Linked DNA regions of Homo sapiens. The protein of the gene in region 2 purifies or fractionates together with the protein of the main gene of each other region. This does not show direct contact. Each region holds a gene or a part of one and is shown on either strand. Other genes may lie near its edges. The genes, in order: ZNF292, ADNP, SCAI, ZMYM3, PHAX, SOAT1 and MGA.

Region 1 (3,500 bases), on a different chromosome or scaffold from region 2:
TTACGAGGCTGAGGTGGGAGGATCATTTGAACCCGGGAGGCAGAGGTTGCAGTGAGCAGAGATGGTGCACTGTGCACACTCCAGCCCGGGTGACAGAGAAAGATCCTGTCTCAAAAAAATAAAAAATAAAAATAAAATTGTATCTTAGCAATTATCACCTAGCATTTTGATACGAAGTTGAGTGAAGCAATGGTTAACAATTAAAGAATTTATTGGCGCAATCTAAATATAGTACCAGGGATACTAGGAGCTAGAAATTATGTCTTAGTTTCTAACCTTGAGATTATTATTTAACTTTTTCTGTTTAAGCTTTTCCTGTAAAACTGGGATAGTCACACGCTTCAAGAAGGCAAAGATGAATAAACGTTTGTCAAAGTTAATGGGCTTCAGAATTAATATTCTGTCAGTGTTGATGCTCAGTGCTTGTGTAACCCTTAGTTTTGCATTTACTTTAAAAAATGAATTAGTTTACATTCTATGTAATTTTTATGAGCAAAAGTTCAGTTTCTGGAGAATGTGGTGAAACCCACAGAAACAGGAGTTGCTTATGATCCGTAGTTTATAGATTTTTATTTTTGAGTGAGGTAGAAGATTAATAGATTTTTTGAATTCTGAGTAGCAGAATAGAAACGAAAGGCATTAAATGTTTTTCTTATTAACAGTGTTGTTTTGCTCATTCTGGAAATAAGCCACCTGCCCCCCCTTTGCTTATTTAAATGAGAATTTGCTTAAAGCTTAAGTGGGAGGAGGGAAGAGTAAGTAGAGGATGGGCATAGTAGAGCGCCCGTCATAAATTTTAAATTTTTTTATATATTTTATTTTATTTTTGAGAGATGGGGTCTTGCTACATTGCCCAGGTATGATCATAGCACACTACAACCTCAAACTCTTAGGCTCAAGTGATCCTCCTGTCTCAGCTTTCTTTTCTTTCTTTTTTTTTTTTTTTTTTTTTAAAAAAGATGTAGTTTAACTCTGTCACCCAGGCTGGTGTGCAATGGCGCAATCTGGGCTCACCACAACCTCCGCCTCTTGGGTTCAAGCAATTCTCCTGCCTCAGCCTCCTGAGTAGCTGGGATTACAGGCATGTGCCACCATGCCCGGCTAATTTTGTATTTTTACTAGAGACAGGGTTTCTCCTTGTTGGTCAGGCTGGTTCCGCCCCTCTTGGCCTCCCAAAGTGCTGGGATTACAGGCGTGAGCCACCACGCCCGGCCCTGTCTCAGCCTTCTAAGTAGCTGAGACCTCAGGCATACACCACCATGCCCAGCTCTTAAATTTCCTTGTATCTTTTCAAAGTTAGCTTTAATATGGGCAATATAACCAACTCATTTTCTTAAAATTGACTTAGAATAAGTATATAGAATAACCAGAAGTAATTTCTTGCATTTACTTGTTTTAGGATTATTACTGTATTTATTATACAAAAATTGGTTATAATTGGAACCTTTTAGACTAGTTAATTGTATTAGACTGGGCCAGTAGTCACTCATTCAACATTTCTATTGAACATCTACTGTATACAGGCTAGGCAAGGATGATCATGGTCCCTGGCTTCAAAGAGTTTATAGTCTCTGGAGGAAGGTAGACAGATAATCGTAGTAAACTATGATTTATATATTTTATCACTGAGGTGAGTACAGTAAAGAGGGAGGTTATTTGGGAGTTTTAAAAGAAACATTCCAACAGAGGAGTTGTTCTAAAGAGATTTTAAAATAATAGTTCGTTGGAAAAATTGGCCATTGTAATAGTTGATTTGTTGGAGTATGATATTTGCTGACAGCACTATATACTGGACTGGCCGACTGGTTGATTGTAACTGTTATTGACCATTGATCAGTAGTGATCTGGTGGCTGACAGTTGTTTTGAAGGGTTGAATTACAGTCGTGTGTGTATGTGTATACATACGTACATGTGTTTGTATATATATGTGTGTGTGTGTGTGTGTGTGTATATATATGCAAGGACCTAGGTTTAGATGTTACAGAGGATATAAGATACAGGAGACTCTAATAAAAAAATATGTTTGTGTGTATATATACATATATACGATGTGTGTGTGTATACATACATGTATACGGTGTGTGTGTGTGTATATATACATATATATGATGTGTGTGTGTATATATATATATATAATTTTCTTAGTTCATATAAGCAGGGCTTCTCAACTGGGCATAGTACTTTCCCTACCTCCAGTTCTCTCTTTGATGGCACTTAGAAATATGTGGGATCAGGTTTTTGGATGTTGCTATGACTAGGGATGTGGTACTGGCATTTAGTGCCCATGAGCTTCAATGCTAAGTTTTCTGAAGTGATCAGGACCGTCCCAACAAATGAAAGCGTAATTCCTCTAAGTACCCTTTTCAGAAACATTGAACAGAAAGAAAAATAGTATATCTAGAAGATTTTTTTTTTTAGTCCTTCTACTCTTTTCATATTGAGATAGTTAAGCTCCAGAAATATACTTTATTTGGAACAGGTCCAGGTAAATGATATTCAACAATATTTAAGTATAATTTATACTGACCATGAGAGGTCAAGAAACTTTCTACTTTCTTAGCAGAAATTACAAGCAATTGCATAAACAGTTAGTAAAACAACTTTTGCTAGGTTAAAGAGGGTAGCAAATTCAGCATAATTATCCTGATTAAAGAAAAGATTTGACATTTTGATATAATAAATTCTGTACTTTTAAGAAAGCATTTATATGCAAGGACCTAGGTTTAGATGTTATAGGAGATAAAAGATACGGGCAACTAGTGGGATATAAATTAGTAAGATAATATTTAAATATCACTTCAAAATGACAGCTGAAAAGATGTCAAAAGGCAGTGTATTAACTAACAAATTGTTTTGCTTTATTTTTATTTTTTTGAGACAGGGTCTCCACTCTGTCACCCAGGTGGGAGTGCAGTGACACAGTCACGGCTCACTGCATCCTTGACCAACTGGGCTTAAGCGATCCTCTTGCCTCAGCCTGAGTAGCTGGGACCACAGGTGCACATCAACATGCCTAACTTTAAAATTTTTTGTGGAGACAAGATCTCCCTACATTGCCCAGGTTGGTCTCAAACTCCTGTGCTCAAGCAGTCCTCCCACCTTGGTCTCCCAAAGTGCTGGGACTATAGGCGTGAGCCACTGCACCCAGCCTGGTTTTGCTTTTTTGTTGTTTGTTTTGTTTTGTTTTAAATTGAAAATGTACTAATTGAAATGGTTTTTTAAAATTCACCCTGAGAAAGGGCATACAATGAAAACTTGATCTTTTTCCCATTCTAGAGTTCCAGTCTCATTTCCACAAAGACAAATCCCCTAATGGTTTCCAGAACTAGTTTGCTCTTTTTAAGAAAATAAAGATAACTACACTGTATCTTGCTTTCCCTCCCCCCAAAAGCATCTTCTAGCTCATTCCATAGCTGCTCATGTAAGTTTTTGGCTTTCCCTATTATAGTATATAGTAATTCTAGTCTATGGCTGGGTCTAATTAATCAGTTCATTATCA
Region 2 (3,500 bases):
CAATGCACGACGGTATTATACGCTGTAAATAACTGTATGTGCTATACTTCTATGACTGGCAGCACAGGTGTGTTTACATTAGTATCACTACAAACATGAATCATATGTTGCGCTATGATGTCATAAGGTAGCAAGTTTTTCAGCTCAATTATATTCTTATGGGACCACTGTCGTAGATGTAGTTCATCACTGACCAAAATGTCGTTATGTGGTGAATGACTGCGGTAAAATTCAGGGCCCACGATGTTTTAGTGCAATTAGACAATTACAAGAGATAAAGCTATATCTTTTATTCCTTTCCTCATTATGGATAAATTTTCATAGAAAAAAGGCAAATCTCCATTTTTTCCTCTGATTAAAGTACAGTGTAGTATCAGATTCAGCGCTGATCAAAAGAAAGACTGATTTGAAAAGTTGGCTTTCTTCTATAAGCCTTGCTGTTCCTTCTCAACCAAGAACACTTCAAAAGAGCTAATGAAGTAATAGCTGCTTTGATTCAAATCAAGAAGTTAAATAAAAATGTCCTACAGACTGTGAGGAGGGTGAGGTATTTAAAAGCCAATAATACATTATAGAATATACTGATATCAAAGAGCAACTTTCAGAATTATGATTGTTAACACCTATGCAGTCAGTCCTTTGATGAAGGCAGGTGAACTGACATGCTTGGTAAGAGATTATCTTTTCTCCCTAGAAACCTACTTGTTTCAGATACTGGTTTGAACCATGATGAAATACTCTGCTTCTCCTCAAAGCTCAACTCTTCTTTAGTATTCAGCTATGAGGCTTTCAGATTGATAAAACTGAATTAAATAAATGATGTGTCCCACTGGAAAGCATTCTCATTCTAAGACTGCTGGTTAGTAACTTTGCCTGGGGTATTTAAAAAAAAAAAAAAAAAAAAAAAAAAGTCAAATATCTGAGTACTAATTTCCTGAAAAGTATGTTCCGATAGATGAACAGATCATTAATGCAGAATGAGAATCACTCCTAAAATAGGTAATGGTAAAAATTAAATTGACAATTACCTCTCTCTATGCAGAAGGAAATATCACCTATATGACATCATCATCATCTATTGATACTTGCTGGCAGTGCTAATATTGTTTTTAATGCCAATTTGTAAGAAGTTTTATCTCTCTGTCACTGACATCCTACAGAGTCACTTCCCCAGGCCTCCCATAGAAGTTGGGTGCCATCAACATAGGGAAATAAGAAAAGCTTAAATGTAAGGAAGGGTCTTGTCTTTTTCTGTGCAGAAAAAACAAGAATGGCAACACAGATGCAGAAAAATAGAGCCAGAGCACTTTTAGGGGAAATGGTGGGATACAGCAGGCTTCGTAACTTTTAAGTAACAAAATTTTGTTTCTTCTTACACCTCAAGTTTTAGTCCAATGACAAAAAAGGACAAAAAGTTTTTCTTAGTCTTCCCACTGGTCAGGAAAATATGAAATGCAATTTTGACACTTTCGATGTTTGGCACTTGCCCGCAATCACTGCACCGCTATAAAAGGCCTAGAGCTGAAAAGGGAGTATACCAAGCATGCTGCCATCTGAGGAAGTCTCCTGTGCCACTTACCTGGTTTTTCGTAAGTGATGGGTCCCACAGTCCTACATCCTCCCATGTAGTGTTTTTCAAATAAAAGTCATTAGGTTCAAATTGTTTAAAATCCTAGAAAACAGTGAAATAAGTTTACAAAAACATAGTGGTATAAACGCTAACCCAATCTTACATGTAAATCTCACCTCTTAACTAAGATGGGGAGAGGCACAGGAAAACCAACGTCAACAAGGACTTAAACTAGGAGTGATAAGGCTCTTAAATATAAAAAGGCATATGGAAGTTGCAGTCTACATTTTATATCAACCAACCACTTTCCTGATGGTCAGTCAGGTTTCCAAGGAAATTGCTGGAAGTTCTAATTAAGTAAAAAATTCAGCCACACACTAATATCAAAGCACTTTTCATTAGAGTACTGTACTCTAACTCGTCAGTTACAGTACTGGAATGGTGTCTAAAATAGCAATGTTTGCTTACAGCACTGCAAATATGATTTCTGGTTCTGTGCAAAAAAAAGATTTTTTTCGAGGGGAGGGGGCAGGAGATCAGATCAGGAAGAAAACTCAAATTTCAAACCCAAAAAGGCAGAAAGAAAGCTATTCAAAGAAAGTTAAGCAGTATGATGTTAAATTTATACTCTCATGTAAAAATTTAATGGTCCACTTCCCTCCAGACTAGGAAGATTAAAAGTCTTAGGGTAAAATCCCACTTGTTCCTAAAAAGTTCACAGTTCAAGGTGGAAAATGAAGTCTACACATAAATAATCATAGGAGGAACAAATCAAATGCATGACAGAAATGTACTGTGATGTTGGTATTAATTATTTCTATGAAGATGACCCCACAGAGTGCAAAGTGAATGGACTGTTTCATTTGGGCAGATCTACCTGAACTCTGGGGTTGGAGAAGGGCTACTTCCACACTTGGAACAACGTGACTAGAGAAGTCAACTTTTGAGCAGCTTCTGTTTCCATGCCATACTCTTCAAGTATTATTAGTGGAACTCAAATTAAGAAAACCTGTTGTATGAATGAATTTGCTTTTTTACTTCCAATTCCATTCAAACACTTACTGATCACCTATTACGTGCAAAACACTGTGCTAGGTGCTGGGGCTAAATGGATAAACAAGGTAGCTATGTTCCCTAGCCACCTAGAACTTAAAGGTTAGTGGGGGAAACAGCTTCAAACATTTCTTTTCAATCAGGGGCTCTGACCAACAAACCATAAGACCTGGAACAGTGAGATGTTGAAAAGGAGACCACTGCATGGCTATCCCACAGAGCTGTTATAAAGCTCATAGAATAAAACAGCTTGAAAAACAGTTCATAAAGCCCAAACTGTTATACAAGGGGGAAAGTAATAGTCTATGATGGGTCAAAAGGGGCAACAAATGCTCAAATCCTAAGGAAAGAGACAACAAGCACCCACACAAGCACGCCTCAACAATTAGAAGAAGGTCAACCAGAACATTCAGGCGTATCAGAATGAGAACAGGCTTTGAGTCCCACAGACACTGCCACTTTCTCAGCTGCAAGGCTGGGCCTATTTATTTGTTCTTCATCTGTGAAGTGGAGATAAGAACTGCTACACTGCCTCCCGCCTCCATGGTTGTTCTAAGGATTAAATGTATAGACAACTTTACGGCACCTAGTTCAACGCCTGACATGCTTAAGTCCTCAATGGTAGCCTTCTGCTTCAGGATGCAAAAATGAAAAAGCCCATTTTAGGGAGAAAGGCACAAGTTAATGCTATTGAGAATGTTTTCGTGAAGCTACTGCTGTGGCTGAAATTCAGAATCACATCTAAGATTTAGCCATCTTGGCCACTGACACAAAGTAATGGATCAGAAGCTGAGTCATGTTAAAATTTAAAAATGACATGCTACTTACTTCTATATGTTCTTTACAGTATTCCAACCCAATGTCACTAAGTATTTTT
Region 3 (3,500 bases), on a different chromosome or scaffold from region 2:
TGAGACAAAGTCTTACTTTGTTGCCCGTACTGGAGTGCAGTGATGTGATCTTGACTCACTGCAATCTCCGCCTCCTGGGTTCAAGCAATTCTCTTTCCTCAGCCTCCCGATTAGCTGGGATTACAGGCGCCTGCCACCATGCCCGGCTAATTTTTGTATTTTTAGTAGAGACGGGGTTTCAACATGTTGGCCAGGCTGGTCTTGAACTCCTGGCCTCAAGTGCTCTGTCTGACTAGGCCTCCCAAAGTGCTGGGATTACAGGTGTGAGCCACCGGGCCTGGCCTTCACTTACTTCTTTTTCCTTTTTATTTTTCTTCTGAGACAGGGCTTGGCTCTGTTGTCAAGGCTGAAGTGAAGTGGTGCAATCACAGCTCACTGCAGCCTCGACCTGGTAATCCTTCCACCTCAGCCTCCCAAGTACCTGGGACTACAGATGTGCACCACCATGCCAGGCTAACTTTTTATTTTTTGTAAGAGACAGGGTCTCACTGTGTTGCTCAGGCTGGTCTCCTGTGCTCAAGTGATGCGCCAGCCTTGGCCTCCCAAAGTGCTAGGATTACAGGCGTGAGCCACCATACCCAGCCTTTCTTTTTATTTTTTCTAATATGGCTACTAGAAAATTAAAAGCTGCATACATTTAACTTGCATTGTATTTCTTTGCATTGTATTTCTTTTGGATAGCTCTCATTTAACTCTCATTACCCCACTGCCAGACTCTTCAGTAGCCTTCTGACTGGTTTCCCTACCTTGAATCTGTAATTCCCTCCCTGTACTGTGCAAATCGATCTTGTAATTCTCATGCTTAGGATCCCTCTGTGCTTCCTCATTGCTTATTGAACATCATTCAGACTTTTAGCCTAATCATATAAAAAAATTGCCTTTATTTTACTTCTTCATACTTTCCCAGCCACGGTTAATACTTTGGCCATATCGATTTTCAATGATGGAACTATTAAATGTCTACTTTTAAATGATTTAACTTTCTGGTGAACCTTCAAGATGAATTAATTGCTGAATGTAACTCCGTGCTCCATTTGCCATTCCCAGAACTTATGTTCCCTCTTTGCTTTGGTTTTTTGTTTTTAGGGTTTTTGTTGTTTTTGTTGTTGTTGTTGTTGTTTTTTAAAGACGGTCTCACTTCAGGGTGGAGTGCAATGGTGTGACAATGGCTCACTGGAGCCTTGACTTCTCGGGCCCAGGTGATTTTCCCACCTCAGCCTCCCAAGTAGCTGGGACTACAGATGTGCATCACTATGCCCAGCTAATTTTTGCATTTTTTGTAGAGGTGGGGTTTTACCATGTTGCTCAGGCTGGTCGTGAACTCCTGGGCTTAAGCTATCTGCCTTCCTCAGACTCTCAAAGTGTTTGAATTATAGGCGTCAGCCACAGTACCTGGTCTGCTTTGGGTTTTTGTATGTGATTTCTTTTTCTTTCTGGAGTACTTTCTCCTTGCTCCTTGACAAGCCCCCTCCTTTAAGACTTTGCTCAGTGAGGGCTTCCCCCCACCCTCCCTCTGCTCCACCTTATTGGGTCCCATCATGGCCTGTACATACACTTACATGAAATGGTCTGGGCTGAATTTGAATTCAGCTCTGTCAAATGTAGTTTGCGAGATCATGTGCAAGTTAATAAGCCTGTCTCTGCCTCAGTTTCCTCATCTATATAGTAGAAATAATAGTTCTGCTGGCGTGGTGGCTCACGCCCGTAATCCCAGCACTTTGGGAGGTCAAGGTGGGCAGATCACCTGAGGTCGGGAGTTTGAGACCAGCCTGACCAACATGGAGAAACCCCATTTCTATTAAAAATACAAAATTGGGCCGGGCACGATGGCTCAATCCTGTAATCCCAGCACTTTGGGAGGCCAAGGCGGGCGGATCACAAGGTCAGGAGATCGAGACCATCCTGGCTAACACAGTGAAACCACGTCTCTACTAAAAACAAAAAAAATCAGCTGGACGTGGTGGCAGGTGCCTGTAGTCCCAGCTACTCAGGAGGCTGAGGCAGGAGAATGACGTGAACCCGGGAGGCAAAGCTTGCAGTGAGCTGAGCTCATACCACTGCACTCCAGCCTGGGCGACAGCGAGACTCCGCCTCAAAAAAAAAAAATTGGCTGGGCGTGGTAGCGCATGTCTGTAATCCCAGCTACTCGGGAGGCTGAGGCAGGAGAATCGCTTGGACCCAGGAAGTGGAGGTTGCAGTGAGCCGAGATTGCACCATTGCACTCCATCCTGGGCAACAAGAGCGAAACTCTGTCTCCAAAAAAAAAAAAAAAAAAAAAAGAAATAATAGTTCGACTTCCCCAAGGTTGTAAGGTGCCTAGGATAGTGCCTGGCACATAGAAGGTACACAATAAATTTTAGGTTAAAAAACACCCATCAAATATCTTTTATTTCCCACTTCTTTTCAAAATGAGAAGATTAAAAATAAAGGCCAAGAAGAAATGAAAGAAGCAGATAAAGCCAGTGGCAGAATTAGTGCATGGACCGGAAAGTCCTGCATCATTGCTAATGGTTGCTTTGGTGTTTGGCTCTGAGTTTTCTGGAGTAAAATGAAGAAGAAAATAAAGTTCAGTTTTCAGATTCATGGTATCTCTAAAATCAAACGTGAGTTTTTAAAGATTGCTTCTTGGCCAAGCGTGGTGGCTCACATCTGTAATCCCAGCACTTTGGGAGGCTGAGGCGGGTGGATCACCTGAGGTCAGGAGTTTGAGACCAGCCTGGCCAACATGACGAAACCCCATCTCTACTAAAAATACAAAAAATTAGCCGGGCATGGTGGCGCGTGCCTGTAATCACAGGTACTCAGGAGGCTGAGGCCAGAGAATCTCTTGAACCTGGGAGGTGGAGGTTGCGGTGAGCTGAGATTGCACCACTGCACTCCAGCCTGGGCAACAGAGTGAGACTCCGTCTTAAATAAATAAATAAAGATTGCTTCTTATACTTCTCAATCCAAGTGAGTTATTGCCAGTGAACAGTCTCCACGGGGCCAAAGCAATGTGGTTTTGGTATATGGCTCTCTGATGGTTTGGCTTGATTCAGAGGTAAAGAGGGATGCGTACACTGTGGGGACTATACGTGTTTTGTTCACTGTTTATCCCCAGCAGCTAGAATAGCATCTGGCACGTAGAGAACAGTTTATTGAATTTTTGAGTGAACAAATCCTTTAGTAATTCTCCAGGAATTTAAGTAAGCATCAGGTTGCAATGAGTTTATTTTCTCAGTCCAGAATCATGAGGCTACATATTCAGCATGCCTGATTTAGGTTAGATCCTGATCATGTCAGCATTTTGACCTGAATGGACAACCAGCACATGTATTTAAAGGTCCTATGGGCAGGACCAAGATTTTCCTCAGAAAACAGTGCAGGGGTTGCTCTAAAACTAGAAAACAAAATGTACAGTTAAGACCCCAAAGATGAATTATAGAATAAGGATGTAATGGTTGTAGCCAGATATTTAAAAAAATAGGTGTTAGGCCGGGCGCGGTGGCTCACACCTGTCA
Region 4 (3,500 bases), on a different chromosome or scaffold from region 2:
GAGGGCAGCCAGCCTTCCATCTCTAAGCTGGCCCGATCTCCAAGGGGAGGAGCATGGCTTATCCCGGGGGAAAGAAAGGGCCCAACGCATTTTAGGGAGGCAGGTCTGACCATCCTTTTGACATCCTCAGGCTGCCCGGTGCCATGCGTGTAAGCGCCAGGGGAAGCTGCTGGAGACCATCCACTGGCGTGGGCAGATCCGTCATTTCTGCAACCAGCAGTGTCTTCTGCGTTTCTATAGCCAGCAGAACCAACCCAACCTGGATACCCAGAGTGGGCCCGAGAGCCTCCTGAACAGTGAGTCCCAGGCAGGGGGTACACTCTGTTAGAGGGAGCCTGGACTCTCCTAATCCTAAGCCTAGCCCCTTTCTCCTTCCTCTTGCGTTCAGCTCACCCCTGGCCAGATAGGGTGCTAGTACTGTGAACTGTATTCTCTTTTAGCTTCCGAACCCTGCAGGTACCGGGGGAGTCTTATTTAAAGCTTCTTGGAGTTAGCATCTACTGATTGTCTATGAAATATATATTGTTAGGGAGTGGGTGCCTTTCCTGGTAGGATGGAGCATATAGGGGTTATGGTTACGTTTCTGAGATAAGGAAATCTCAGCATAAACTCTACATTTAGTGAGACTGAAGACTGCTATTTCTAGAATGTTACCCCTGCCCCTCCACAACTCCAGGGATAACAGACTCTTCAGGCTATCTAAGTGGAAGGTCTCAAATGTGGGTTTTGGGGGAAAATGTAATGTTTCATTCTCCAGGAACAAATAATCTTTTAGGCTGCTATTGCTGGGGCATAGAGGAGACTAGATCTGGGATGGCAAGGGGGTCAAATCCTAGAAGTTCCCATCTGTATTTGGTGTACCTGTTAATGAAGCTCTCCTGGAACAGGGGTAAGGAAAATGGAGAGCTAGTCCCTTGGATGAGAGCATTCATTTGTTTTGATCTACAGGTCAGTCTCCTGAGTCAAAACCCCAGACACCCTCTCAAACCAAAGTGGAGAACAGCAACACAGTGAGGACCCCAGAGGAAAATGGGAATTTGGGCAAGGTCGGGGCAAAAGCCAAGGGGGAGGATAATCTCAGAGGAGGGTACGGCGGTTGGTGGCACAAATGTTCCTCTGTCTTTGCAGATCCCTGTGAAGACCCGATCAGCTCCCACTGCTCCCACCCCTCCACCCCCACCACCCCCAGCAACACCCCGCAAAAACAAGGCTGCCATGTGTAAGCCACTGATGCAGAATCGGGGCGTCTCCTGCAAGGTGGAGATGAAGTCCAAAGGAAGTCAAACAGGTGAGCCAGGGTACCTCGATGCCACAGGCTGTATTCCAGAGTCCTAGGCCTGCCAGCCCTATGTCCGTGAGCTGGACAAGGGGATTTCTTAGGTAGCTGAAGCCTCATTCATATGGTTGTCCTAGAATCATAGAGGTGTCTTTCAGCCTTTGATTCAAGGGCAGTTTTGTGACACTGAGCATGTTAGAGCTTTTGGTGGGTCAGATGTGACCAGTCCAGCAGGGTCTCTGAGAAGACCCCTTTCTTATCCACAGAAGAGTGGAAGCCACAGGTGATCGTGCTGCCCATCCCAGTGCCCATCTTCGTGCCAGTGCCTATGCATCTGTACTGCCAGAAAGTCCCGGTGCCTTTCTCGATGCCTATCCCGGTGAGTTTCCCTGCCCTTCCTGGCTGGGTCCTCCTTTCCCCTTACTCTCATCAACTGTCCCCCTTCACTCATCATCTGTCCCCCCAACTTCCCCCCAACTGCTGGTGTGGTTCTTGGCATTTAGTTGGGATTCGTGCCTCCAGGTGCCTGTGCCCATGTTCTTGCCCACTACCTTGGAGAGCACAGACAAGATTGTAGAGACCATTGAGGAGCTGAAGGTGAAGATCCCTTCCAACCCCTTGGAGGCCGACATCCTGGCTATGGCAGAAATGATTGCAGAGGCTGAGGAGTTAGACAAGGCCTCATCTGACCTTTGTGGTATGCCATAGATGGTGGCGACGAGGGAGACAGGGTGCTACCAGCATGTCTCTGCCCGAGGGGGTGGTATTGGTGATCTTGGTGCCTAGTAGAATGGGAGGATAGTTGGGATCAGTCCCTGAAAGCTTGTGAGGGTGCTAGCAGGAGCTTGTAACCACTGAGCCAACTTCTCTGCTTCCCAGATCTTGTGAGCAACCAGAGTGCAGAGGGACTCCTGGAAGACTGTGACCTGTTTGGGCCTGCTCGAGATGATGTCCTGGCCATGGCAGTCAAGATGGCCAATGTCTTGGATGAGCCTGGGCAAGACTTGGAGGCAGACTTCCCTAAGAGTGAGTAAGATTGGAGCCATGCCCACTGAGTATGGTAGCATTTGTGCCATCAGGAAGGGAGTGTCCCTTGTGTCCCTGAGCATGACCCTGAAAAGTGTTCATTGTGATTCTAAGACGGAAGGTTCTCACAGGGAGCAGTGCCAGAGACACCAGGACAGGTGCACTCTTTTAGACTTCTGAGTCATGCTTTTTTTTTTTTTTTTTTTTTTTTAATTTTTAAGCTGAAAAAAAACATAAAATTTTACCATGTTCAACATGTTTACGGTTCAGTAGTTCACATTGCTGTGTTTTGCGTTTCTGTGCCTCTGAGCATGCTTTTTGGTATAGCTTTACTGGTTCCTTTGGCTCATCTAGTGTCAAGTGGGCAAGTAGCAGGGGTGGGGCAGGAGGGCTGCAGGGTTGAGATCTTAAGAAATTGATTTCTTCTTTCTTTCCTTTTCATTAGATCCTCTGGACATTAATCCCAGTGTAGACTTCCTCTTTGATTGTGGCCTGGTAGGGCCTGAGGATGTGTCTACTGAACAAGACCTTCCCCGAACCATGAGGAAGGTAGGGCTGGGGCTACTGTATGTACAAAAGAAGAATGGAGGCCCAAAGGGGAGATGATGCGAGAGCCAAGCCAGCAACCATAGTTTGACCTTCCCTAACCTCCTTTCTCCAACACTAGAAGTACTGAGATAAAGCCAAACTTTGCTCTCCCCCCATCTCACAAGGTCATCAAAGCTGTTCCTGGGGCTCTGTGCTATGGAAGCTTGCTGTGTGCTTACATCAGCCCCTGCCCCGGCCAGCAGTAAATATGGTGCTGACTAGCTTTCACCTTGCCTCTGGCCTTACCTCTGCCATGCCCCTGCTTTCTCTTCCCCTCCAGGGTCAAAAGCGGCTGGTGCTTTCCGAAAGCTGCTCCCGGGACTCCATGAGCAGTCAGCCTAGTTGTACCGGGCTCAACTATTCATATGGTGTCAATGCTTGGAAGTGCTGGGTGCAGTCAAAATATGCCAATGGAGAAACCAGCAAGGGTGATGAGCTGCGCTTTGGCCGTAAGTACTTGGGGATGGGGGGTGTGGGGAGGCAGGGACAGGGAGGAGGAGGGGAAAGGGGAGAAGGGGCTGGGCCTGTGATTCAGCTGAAGATGTCTAGAAGTGATAAGGGTGTGATCCCTTAAGGATGCCCTGTGAAGATGGGGAGGAGTTGTAGATTA
Region 5 (3,500 bases), on a different chromosome or scaffold from region 2:
TTCCTTGAGCTCACAAGTTCAAAACCAGCCTGGGCAACATGGTAAAACTCCATCTCTACTAAAAACACAAAAAATTAGCCAAGCGCGGTGGCACGCACCTGCAATCCCAGCTACTCAGAAGGCTGAGGTGGGGGATGGCTTGAGCCTGGGAGGTGGAGGATACAGTGAGCTGAGATCGCGCCACTGTACTCCAGCCTGGGCAAGAGAGCCAGACTGTGTCTCAAAAAATAAAATAAAATAAGAAAGTAAATTTGAACTTGCATCTTCCCAATATTCAGTAAATCTGCATTAGCTCACTGGAATATAAAGTTTTATCACTACAGTACTAAAATATTGATGAAATCTGTAACTCTGTGTTCAACTGAATGAAAATTGAAGTACTTTAACAATGACACAAATAGGGATGGCAGTGCATTCATGATTATTATAATTTCTTTTGTTGCTAACTTCTGTTTTGACTTCTGTAATTTATGTTCACAGGCTGTTTCCTTAGCCAATGCTATTAATCCTAACTGGGTTTTTTTTCTCCCCATGTCCAAAGCACAATATTGATCTACTCCCTTGTGATGTTATTACAGTATTCAGACTTATCAGTAACAAAAAACAAGGAAGTCATTCAAACCTTCATCCTCACCCTGTGGTGAAAGCTGAATTCAATGAGATATGCCAAACCCTTCTATAACCGCCAGTGCTCGTGATCTGGCCTAGCCAGAGGAGCTCTTTCTGTCATTCTGAAACAGTAAAGAGCTTCTCAAACTTTTCTCCCATTATTGCTCTACCACCCCAGGAACTTTTTAGACTTCCCCCAACTTTCATTCTTATACCCAGGAAATTTTAATACACACAAAAATACTGTATACCTATTTGTACTTTATTGTGTATCTATCTGTGCTTACATAACAAAAGTGTTGACCGGGCACAGTGGCTCAAGCCTGTAATCCCAGCACTTTGGGAGGCCGAGGCAGGCGGATTGCCTGAGCTCAGGAGTTCTCAACCAGCCTAGGCAACATGGTGAAAGCCTGCCTCTACTAAAATACAAAAACTAGCTGGGCGTGGTGGCAGGCTATAGTCCCAGCATACTTGGGAGGCTGAGGCAGGGGAATTGCTTGAACTCGGGAGATGGAGGTTTCAGTGAGCTGAGATCGTGCCACTGCACTCCAGCCTGGGCGACAGAGTGAGATTCCGTCTCAAAAAACAAACAAACAAAAAAAAGGGTGTTTTGTTTTTTTTTTTTGCCCTCTTTTTCAAGAATGCATGAATTAAGTGAACCAAAATGAACACTTCTGTTTACCATTGCTAAAGTGCTGGGCACTGTGGTCAGTATTTCATGTGCACCATCTCCTCTAATCCTTAAAATGTAGGACTAATCTCCATTTTACAGCTGAGGAGACTGAGGCTCCAAGAAGTCAAACAACTTAGCCGAATTTCAATTAGTATGTTGAAAATCTAGAAGTAAAAAAGGGTACCCAAACTCTAAAACCCATATTCTCAAGATCTGAGCTCCTAGGCTCCCCTAGACTTTGTCGTCTTAAAACTTCAACCCTTTGGCCGGGTGCAGTGGCTCACGCCTGTAATCCCAGCACTTTGGGAGGCCGAGCTGGGTGGATTGCCTAAGGTCAGGAGTTTGAGACCAGCCTGGGCAACATGGTGAAACCCCGTCTCTACTAAAAATACAAACGTTAGCCGGGTGTGGTGGTGCATGCCTGTGATCTCAGCTACTTGGGGGGCTGAGGCAGGAGAATTGCTTGAACTCGGGAGGCGGAGGTTGCAGTGAGCCGAGATTGCGCCACTGCACTCCAGTCTGGGCGACAGAGCGAGACTCCTTCTCAAAAAAAAAAAAAAAAAAAAAAATTCAACCCCTACCTTTAACAAATCATGTAAGAAATGTTTTGGTGACTATACGGCAACAGGCTATAATTTATGTTTGTTTGTTTGTTTTTTTGTCAGGGAAGTACTAACTGCAAAAACAACTGTACTAATTTTTTTTTCTTTTTATTCTTTTTTTTTTTGAGACGGAGTTTCGCTCCTGTTGCCCAGGATGGAGTGCAAGGGTGCGATCTCAGCTCACTGAAACCTCTGGTCTCTCAGGTTCAAGTGATTCTCCTGCCTCAGCCTCCTGAGTAGCTGCGATTACAGGTATGTGCCACCACGCTTGGCTAATTTTGTATTTTTAGTAGAGACAGGGTTTCTCCATGTTGGTCAGGCTGGTCTCGAACTCCCGATCTCAGGTGATCGGCCCGCCTCAGCCTCCCAAAGTGCTAGGAATACAGGCTTGAGCCACCGTGCCTGGCAACTAATTTTTTTTTAACAGTCTTCATTGTTGATAATAGTTTAAAAACTTCAAACATACTGTAAGAATGCATGATAAATCACAGATCCAACAAGGGCAAAGTTAAATTTGTAATCAAAAACAAAAACACAGGATAAACAATACAAAAACAAAAACAGTTAAGCAGTCTTACCATTATAAAGAGACCACCATTTTGTTCAACTTCAGCGGTTTCCATCAGAAGTTCAATTGCCTTTTTGTTACCAATAATCCTCACTACTCGGGCTATCAGGTCTTTCTTTGGTTCCTGTAACCTGATGAGAAACAAGTAAAATTATCCTCTTTGTTTGTTGTACAAAGTTGAAGAAATCTACCTTAGTCACCAGCTAGAATAAAAATCTGATTCTAGTAACTTTTGGTTTTCTAAATCTTCAATATTTAATCTTGGAATCACTGACATGTAAATATTCCTAATCTTGGGTCACAGAAGGAGATGGTAACCTCAAGTTTCCATCTAAACTCTCATAATTGGCTTATTTGTCTTATTGGATTATAGCAGATTTCAAAATGCACATGCAGCACGATGAATGCAGGTCTGAATGCAAAAGATGATAAAGGCAGTCCACTATTGTCAAAATAAATAACAGACATATATACTTTCAATTATTACGCCTAAAAGCTAAGGCTCACATAATTCCAGAGATGTCTGGAGCTTTAAAATGGGATAGGACCTTTCCCTCATAGACTCCCTGCCTCAGAACAAAAAATAGAAACAGCTAATATTTACTGATGGCTTATTATGATTATAATAAGCACAATCCTAAGAACCTTACATGCACTATGCCAGCTGATTCTCTCAAGAATGTACAAGATAGGTACTATCGTTTTCATTTTGTCACTGAGAGGTTAGAAACATAGGTAGCCTAAGTAATTCTTCCAGTGTCAAAGCTCACACTCTCAACAGATCAAGAATTCAGCTGGGTGTGGTGGCTCACACCTATAATCCCAGCATTTTGGGAGGCCGAGGTGGGTGGATCACCTGAGGTTGGGAGTTCGAGACCAGTCTGACTAACGTGGAGAAACCCCGTCTTTACAAAAAATACAAAATTAGCTGGGTGTGGTGGCACATGCCTATAATCCCAGCTACTTGGGAGGCTGAGGCAGGAGAATTGCTTGAACCCTGAGGCTGAGGCAGAGGTTGCAGTGAGCCAAGATGGCACCACTGCACTCC
Region 6 (3,500 bases), on a different chromosome or scaffold from region 2:
GTCTCAGCCTCTCAAAGTGCTGGGGTTACAGGCTTGAGCCACCATGCTTGGCCTTTTGCCACTATTTCTTATTTTCCTCCTGTCTTTCCGACCATACCTTGATTTCTTAAATATATTTATTGCATTTTTTTGTCTATTATAGAGATATATGAGTACCTAGTACTATGCCAGGTGCAGAGGACTCAGAAGTGAACAAGAGATGTATTATCTTTACAGTCTGGGAGCTTTTATAGTTTCCCTTACTTTTCCTCTTTTCTTTACTCATTGAATGTTGGTAATGTTTTCTGTCATCACCTTCCCTTTCTTTTCTTCTCTTGCATTCCTCTTCCAGTAACCCTCCCTCACCAGCCCCAGGACTTATTTGAATGAACTCTGTATCTGTCCCTAAAATAGAATATGTGTTACATACTTGAGTGTCTTCCTCACTAGCTGCAAAGTTATTGAGTTCAAGGATTGTGTTTTATAGCCAATCACAGTCTCTCTCATATTGTCTGGTACATAGTTGATGCTCTATAAATATATATTTTTCAATAAATGAGTGAAAGAGATGGACATATAAATGGATATTTTACAATATATTGTAATATGTACTACATAAGTAGGATAAACAAAATGCTTATGGCCTTTGTTTCACATTAGAGATAACATTTAATATTGGGTATTGAAAAATAGGTAGGTATTTGCCTGGCAGAGAATTGGTGGAAAGGTCATTCTAGGTAGTGGGATGGATGCAAGGGCATGGAGCATTCTGGAATGGCATAAACCCAGTTGTGGATAATGTTTACAACACTTAGAGGGTAGAATCACTGGAGATATGTTTAGAATGTTATCCATGTCACTATGTTAACCATGTCACTATTAACATTTTGGACTGGTTAATTCTTTGTTTGGAGTGGCATTCTTCTGCATTGTAGCATAAACTGTTCAGCAGCATCCTGGCCTCTAACAACTAGATACCAGTGGCACCACTCCCTCTCCTCCAATTGTCACAGCACTGGTGCAGTAGCTTGCACCGGTAGTCCCAGCTATTCTGGAGGCTGAGGTGGGAGGATCACTTGAGCCCCAGGAGTTGAAGTTCAGCCTGGGCAACATAGTGAAACCCTGTCTTTTAAAAACAAAAAGTCTCTAGAATTTCAAATGTCCTGTGGGGGAGAGGGGGCAAAATCTCTCCCAGTTTTAAACAATTGTTTAAGAGGGGGGTATGGGGGCCAGATTTTTAAAGGACCTTGGGTACTAAGTTAAGCCATATATTTAGGCATTTCTTAAAAACAGACTGGGTAGGCTGGGCGCGATGGCTCACGCCTGTAATCCTAGCACTTCGGGAGGCTGAGGTGGGCAGATCACAAGGTCAGGAGATTGAGACCTGCCTGGCCAACATGGTGAAACCCGGTCTCTACTAAAAATACAAAAAATTAGCCAGATGTGGTGGTACATGCCTGTAGTTCCAGCTACTTGGGAGGCTGAGGCAGGAGAATTGCTTGAACCCTGGAGGCAGAGGTTGCAGTGAGCCGAGATCGCGCCACTGCACTCCAGCCTGGGTGACAGAGCAGGACTCTGTCTCAAAAAAGAAAAAAAAAAACCAGACTGGGTAATGTCATTTGTTGAACCCACTTTGAAGGAAGTTACTGTTTTAAAATTAAGATAATTAACTCCAAAAGTATATCATCTCTGGAATGGGTAAACTGGAATAATAACTTATATTTTACAAAATAATCCCAGCTAAATAAAATGATGTGATATAATTAGTTGCTTGGTATGTGAGCTATTTGGAAAGACTGTTAATATTGTTAATCTTATTTTTAGGTGTGCTGATTCTCTTCCTTACTTTTTTTGCCTTTTTGCACTGCTGGCTCAATGCCTTTGCTGAGATGTTACGCTTTGGTGACAGGATGTTCTATAAGGTAGTATATACTTAGACTTAGCTTTCTTTTTACATTTTATTAACTTCTTCATTATTAGTATTTTGACATTGTTGGCTAATGTCACCAGCCTTTCACACAAACATTGTGAAATAATTTTCTTTTCTACAAGTTTTGCCAGTATTTTCTGAAATTCGGTTACAGATATAACTAGCATAACCTTGTGTTTTCTTCTGTCTCTAATATCTGCTCCCTTAACATAAGCACATGGTTTCTGCTGGATCCTGCAAGGATATATTGGTGATTCCAGTAGGAAACTGTTTGTTCAGAGCACACCATGAGACTTCCCTGAGTGTTCATTCATTTGAAATGGACCGTCTAGTTCTGTAGGAATGACCTCAGCAAATTATTCCATTTAAGACAATTGAGCAGTTCATGAGGGAAATAACTTTTCCCTCTTTAGTTTTGAAAGGTGTTAATTTTGCTTCAGATAGTATCCTTATGCTTCTAAAGTTGGAATTAAGCTATAGAATTAGAGTCAGAATGGCTCATAGCATTCTTTAACCCTACCTAAAGCTCTCTTTGAGTTGTTTTTGGCAACACTCCAAGTCTACCACCTTTTTTCTCAAAGAAACTTTAAGTGTGGATTGCAGATTTTAGATACCTGATTTCATTCATCTGATCTTAATATTGGGAGCAAGAAGCATATATAGGGATACCAGGACTTTGAGGTAGCCACCATCTCACCCTGGATAATTTTGCCATTTATGGTAACCACCAAACAGCTCTCTAGTGTTAGCACTCTCTCTGGTCTTCATGACCATAGAATTTTCTCATGACATTCTAGTAGGGTAAGGGGGGTGGGGCTTACTGATTGCTGTTTAGATGAACATTAGATTTAAATGATTCTATGTGTTCCGTATGAACCTAGGAACTAAATCATATATAGTATGAGAATTCATGTCATATTCAACACTAATAACCAAAATGCCTTTGAAGATTTTTCTGTCACCAGTGTATGAACCAACAGTTTATCACAGTATAATTTGATTTTTCTGTTACATATGTTCTTTGGGAAGTCAGGGGGGTTTGCTTTCGGGTGGGATGTGTGTGTGTGTGTGTGTGTGTGTGTGTGTGTGTGTGTGTGTGTGTGTGTGTGTAGTTTTATACCTTTACTTTTTCCCTCAGGATTGGTGGAACTCCACGTCATACTCCAACTATTATAGAACCTGGAATGTGGTGGTCCATGACTGGCTATATTACTATGCTTACAAGGACTTTCTCTGGGTAAGTAGCAAGGTTTAAGTTGATATTATTTATGAAATGGAGATTCTTTTTCAGAAAGTATGAGTATTATACAGCTGGAAGAAGTTATATTTAATTGCTCATGAGGAAAGGGTGATAGTATCTTTTCAGTTTTCTTTTGAGAAATTTACATCTAGAAACCTGCTTTGAATGGTACTGCTTAGAAACCACTGTGTGTACACTAGTAGGTCTAATACTGTGTCTTTTGCTCTGAATTTTATCTTACATAACAAAGTAAGAATGCATGGAGGTTGTTGGAGTTGAAATGATCCACCAATAATGGATAGTTTCTTATGAGTCTTGTTGCCAACAAATAATCTCCCTTTGGTCTTTTTC
Region 7 (3,500 bases), on a different chromosome or scaffold from region 2:
CACTCCACACACCTCTGCCAACCTTGTGATGACTCCGCAAGGGCAATTGCTCACCCTAAAAGGTCCCCTATTCTCAGGACCAGTGGTAGCTGTTTCTCCTGATCTCTTAGAATCTGATCTTAAGCCTCAAGTTGCCGGTAGTGCTGTGGCTCTACCAGGTATGTTGTAAGTGTTGTCCTCTATGGGAAGTGATAAAGTTATCCCTAACATCTCACGGTGACCAAGGAAGGCTTTGGATGTGTTCTGTAATGATAAAGAGCTATTCTGTTGGCATTTGCCTTGGTAAGAGGTGGCCCTATTTTTAGAACACATTTGGCTTGAGCTGTGGTACTGTTTGGTGTGTTTTACACCTGGTATTGGGAACCATTTTGTGAACACTAGTAATTTCTAAGAGGAAGAATAAAAAAGATATCAGAGGGAAAGGAAGATGTTAAATGATCATGGTCTTAGGTCTTGGTGTTGATAAATATTTGTCACTTTTTGTGGTACTCAGAGATGATAACAGTCCTGCATTATTAGCCCCATTCACTTTGAGCACTACTCTGTTTTGGGGCAAAGGGTAAAGTTGAAAGAGAAGCCTCACTTGGGTGATTAGGTTCCAGGCAACTAAATTTCTATTAAGATGAAAGGGTCTCTTTAGTAATATTAGGATCCTGGTTACTTTATTGCCATTGCCAGCCAAAATTCCTTGTCTCTACCTGTTGCCAAACTCACTCTGGAGGACTCATCTTTCCTGGTTCCCATGCTGCCTTTAGGGCTTCATTTTCTGCGCTAAGTAGCAGTTAATTAGGTGAACAGAATCAAGATGCATTTCTGCCTTAGGAGAAGAATTAACTTGGGGAGCATTTCTATAAAATAATTAAATGGAACTTTAAAAAATGGTGGAAAGAGCCTTTTGGTTGGATTTTAGTTGAGATTTTTCTTGTTGGGTTAGGTCAATAATTTGAAGAACTGATATTTCTTTCATCTTTTTGATAAAAGTAGAGTGCTGAATTTAGACTACAAATCCCTAAGATGGTTATATGATATGACAGAGAGAAAGAGAGGTGTTAACACTAGATCTAAATGAATTTTTCTTTTTTTAATTTTTGTTTTTCAGAAAATGACGACTTATTTATGATGCCACGAATTGTTAATGTGACATCATTGGCCACAGAGGGAGGTTTGGTAGATATGGGTGGCAGCAAATATCCTCATGAAGTTCCTGATAGCAAGCCATCTGACCATCTGAAAGACACCGTCAGGAATGAAGATAATTCCTTAGAGGATAAGGGTAGAATCTCTTCCAGAGGAAACAGAGATGGCAGAGTGACGTTGGGTCCAACGCAGGTTTTTCTGGCAAACAAAGATTCTGGTTATCCACAAATAGTTGACGTTTCCAATATGCAGAAAGCACAAGAGTTCTTACCTAAAAAGATTTCTGGTGATATGAGAGGGATTCAGTATAAATGGAAAGAGAGTGAATCAAGAGGGGAGAGAGTGAAGTCAAAGGATTCTTCATTTCATAAATTAAAGATGAAAGATCTCAAGGACTCAAGCATAGAGATGGAACTGAGGAAAGTAACATCAGCTATAGAGGAAGCAGCTCTTGATTCCAGTGAACTGCTGACTAACATGGAAGATGAGGATGATACTGATGAGACACTGACTTCACTGCTCAATGAAATTGCCTTTCTTAATCAACAACTAAATGATGACTCTGTTGGCCTGGCTGAACTACCCAGCTCTATGGATACAGAGTTCCCAGGGGATGCTCGGCGGGCTTTTATTAGTAAGGTTCCTCCTGGAAGCAGAGCAACTTTCCAGGTTGAGCACTTGGGAACTGGTTTGAAAGAGTTGCCTGATGTTCAAGGGGAGAGTGACTCTATCAGTCCCCTCCTCTTGCACTTGGAAGACGATGACTTTTCTGAGAATGAAAAACAACTTGCAGAACCAGCCTCTGAGCCAGATGTCCTTAAGATTGTTATTGACTCTGAAATAAAGGATTCCCTCCTTTCCAACAAGAAAGCTATTGATGGAGGGAAGAATACTTCTGGCCTCCCTGCAGAGCCCGAAAGTGTGTCCTCACCCCCCACCCTACACATGAAGACTGGCTTGGAGAACAGCAACAGCACAGACACTTTGTGGAGGCCTATGCCAAAGTTGGCCCCTCTAGGTTTAAAAGTAGCTAATCCTTCCAGTGATGCAGATGGTCAGAGTCTCAAGGTGATGCCTTGTTTGGCACCTATAGCTGCCAAAGTTGGGTCAGTTGGACACAAAATGAACTTAACAGGGAATGACCAGGAAGGCCGGGAAAGCAAGGTGATGCCTACATTGGCACCTGTTGTGGCTAAATTGGGCAACTCGGGGGCCTCACCAAGTTCTGCAGGGAAATGAACTTACTTGTCCTTAAGCAGAAGCCAGGCTGTGAGGGGAAATAGATCTCACCTCCTTTCTCTGCAGGCATCTGTTTGTTTGTGTCTTAGAACTTGGATCCTTGACTTCAATGATGCAGTGGATAATGATGGGAGAAAGGGGGTAGGGTGCTGACCCTGGTATAAGAAGTACTCTGAAATTCTGATCATGTTAAAATGTGTTACCTCACTTGTGGTGCTGGGTCCCCTCATCCTCTCTAAGAAGATGTGATCCATTACTGAACATGAGGTGCCCCTCTTACCCAAGGAATTTATAACATGACTCTGGCTCCACAGTGGTTTCTAGTTCTTCCCCCACAAGCGAAAGAGCTGTTTGCAACTTTGGAGTTGCTGTAGACTGAACTGTAGCTTGTAGCTGTTGAATTAAGTCCAAAATCTAAGGAATGCGATGGACTTGTGCAAAGGGATCCAGAAGAGACACTTTTTAGTTGATGTTTCAAGAATAGGGAGAGAGAGGATGGGTACCATGGAATACCAAAGTGAAGGACTTTGTGTCATTCAGTAAAATTTTCTTTTTTCATATCCTAAGTAGCTCCCATTCCCTCACCTTTTCAATCAGAATTAACAAATTCAAGCCTTCAGTAAAGTAGGGATGCTTTTAACTTTTATTATTAATTATTTTGAGATCTTAAAAAAATAGTAGTTCTCCCTTATTATTTTTGTGGGCATTGAAAAGCTCATTTCACAGTACCAGAGATTTTTACTGGGAGTATATATTTTGGAGGTAGGCATAGAGGGAGCCCTACCCCTTCCACAAATTACGTTACTCAAGAGACAGCTAAAATAAAATGCATTATCTCCCCAGACCAGAGACAGTGGCCAAAATAAAAAATCATGGGGCTGGAAATTTCCCAAATCAAACCAGCCTCCTGGTGCTTGAAGGTTTCATTCACTATTACCTGCACAGGATGTAAAGAAAAGTCACAGTAGGCACTCTTTACCAGGGAAATAAGGCAGTATTTGAATCACAAGATATATTTTTTATCTGCAACCATGGATCCAATGATCTGTAGAGCTTTTTCACTCATTAACTGTCAGGATATGAAGGACTGACAGTCTGTAAAGATATTTATATTTTTGTATAGT

The links.
Region 1: the proteins of ADNP (region 2) and ZNF292 purify together in Homo sapiens (affinity purification with mass spectrometry, with the first as the bait; one large-scale study listed by BioGRID). This does not show direct contact.
Region 3: the proteins of ADNP (region 2) and SCAI purify together in Homo sapiens (affinity purification with mass spectrometry, with the first as the bait; one large-scale study listed by BioGRID). This does not show direct contact.
Region 4: the proteins of ADNP (region 2) and ZMYM3 purify together in Homo sapiens (affinity purification with mass spectrometry, with the first as the bait; one large-scale study listed by BioGRID). This does not show direct contact.
Region 5: the proteins of ADNP (region 2) and PHAX fractionate together in Homo sapiens (co-fractionation; one large-scale study listed by BioGRID). This does not show direct contact.
Region 6: the proteins of ADNP (region 2) and SOAT1 purify together in Homo sapiens (affinity purification with mass spectrometry; one large-scale study listed by BioGRID and IntAct). This does not show direct contact.
Region 7: the proteins of ADNP (region 2) and MGA purify together in Homo sapiens (affinity purification with mass spectrometry, with the first as the bait; one large-scale study listed by BioGRID). This does not show direct contact.

Annotation. Positions count from the first base shown.
Region 1 is NC_000006.12:87,158,565-87,162,064, forward strand, and holds part of ZNF292 (zinc finger protein 292), read left to right. Parts: intron 1-3,500. UniProt on the Homo sapiens protein: May be involved in transcriptional regulation.
Region 2 is NC_000020.11:50,900,438-50,903,937, forward strand, and holds part of ADNP (activity-dependent neuroprotector homeobox protein), read right to left. Parts: coding exon 3,452-3,500; intron 1,673-3,451; coding exon 1,580-1,672; intron 1-1,579.
Region 3 is NC_000009.12:125,137,029-125,140,528, reverse strand, and holds part of SCAI (protein SCAI), read left to right. Parts: intron 1-3,500. UniProt on the Homo sapiens protein: Tumor suppressor which functions to suppress MRTFA-induced SRF transcriptional activity. May function in the RHOA-DIAPH1 signal transduction pathway and regulate cell migration through transcriptional regulation of ITGB1.
Region 4 is NC_000023.11:71,244,141-71,247,640, reverse strand, and holds part of ZMYM3 (zinc finger MYM-type protein 3), read left to right. Parts: intron 1-130; coding exon 131-296; intron 297-948; coding exon 949-1,046; intron 1,047-1,128; coding exon 1,129-1,288; intron 1,289-1,542; coding exon 1,543-1,655; intron 1,656-1,798; coding exon 1,799-1,973; intron 1,974-2,155; coding exon 2,156-2,302; intron 2,303-2,747; coding exon 2,748-2,851; intron 2,852-3,170; coding exon 3,171-3,339; intron 3,340-3,500. UniProt on the Homo sapiens protein: Plays a role in the regulation of cell morphology and cytoskeletal organization.
Region 5 is NC_000005.10:126,607,447-126,610,946, reverse strand, and holds part of PHAX (phosphorylated adapter RNA export protein), read right to left. Parts: intron 2,584-3,500; coding exon 2,463-2,583; intron 1-2,462. UniProt on the Homo sapiens protein: A phosphoprotein adapter involved in the XPO1-mediated U snRNA export from the nucleus.
Region 6 is NC_000001.11:179,345,797-179,349,296, forward strand, and holds part of SOAT1 (sterol O-acyltransferase 1), read left to right. Parts: intron 1-1,803; coding exon 1,804-1,901; intron 1,902-3,047; coding exon 3,048-3,146; intron 3,147-3,500.
Region 7 is NC_000015.10:41,764,905-41,768,404, forward strand, and holds part of MGA (MAX gene-associated protein), read left to right. Parts: coding exon 1-158; intron 159-1,099; coding exon 1,100-2,376; 3' UTR 2,377-3,500. UniProt on the Homo sapiens protein: Functions as a dual-specificity transcription factor, regulating the expression of both MAX-network and T-box family target genes. Functions as a repressor or an activator.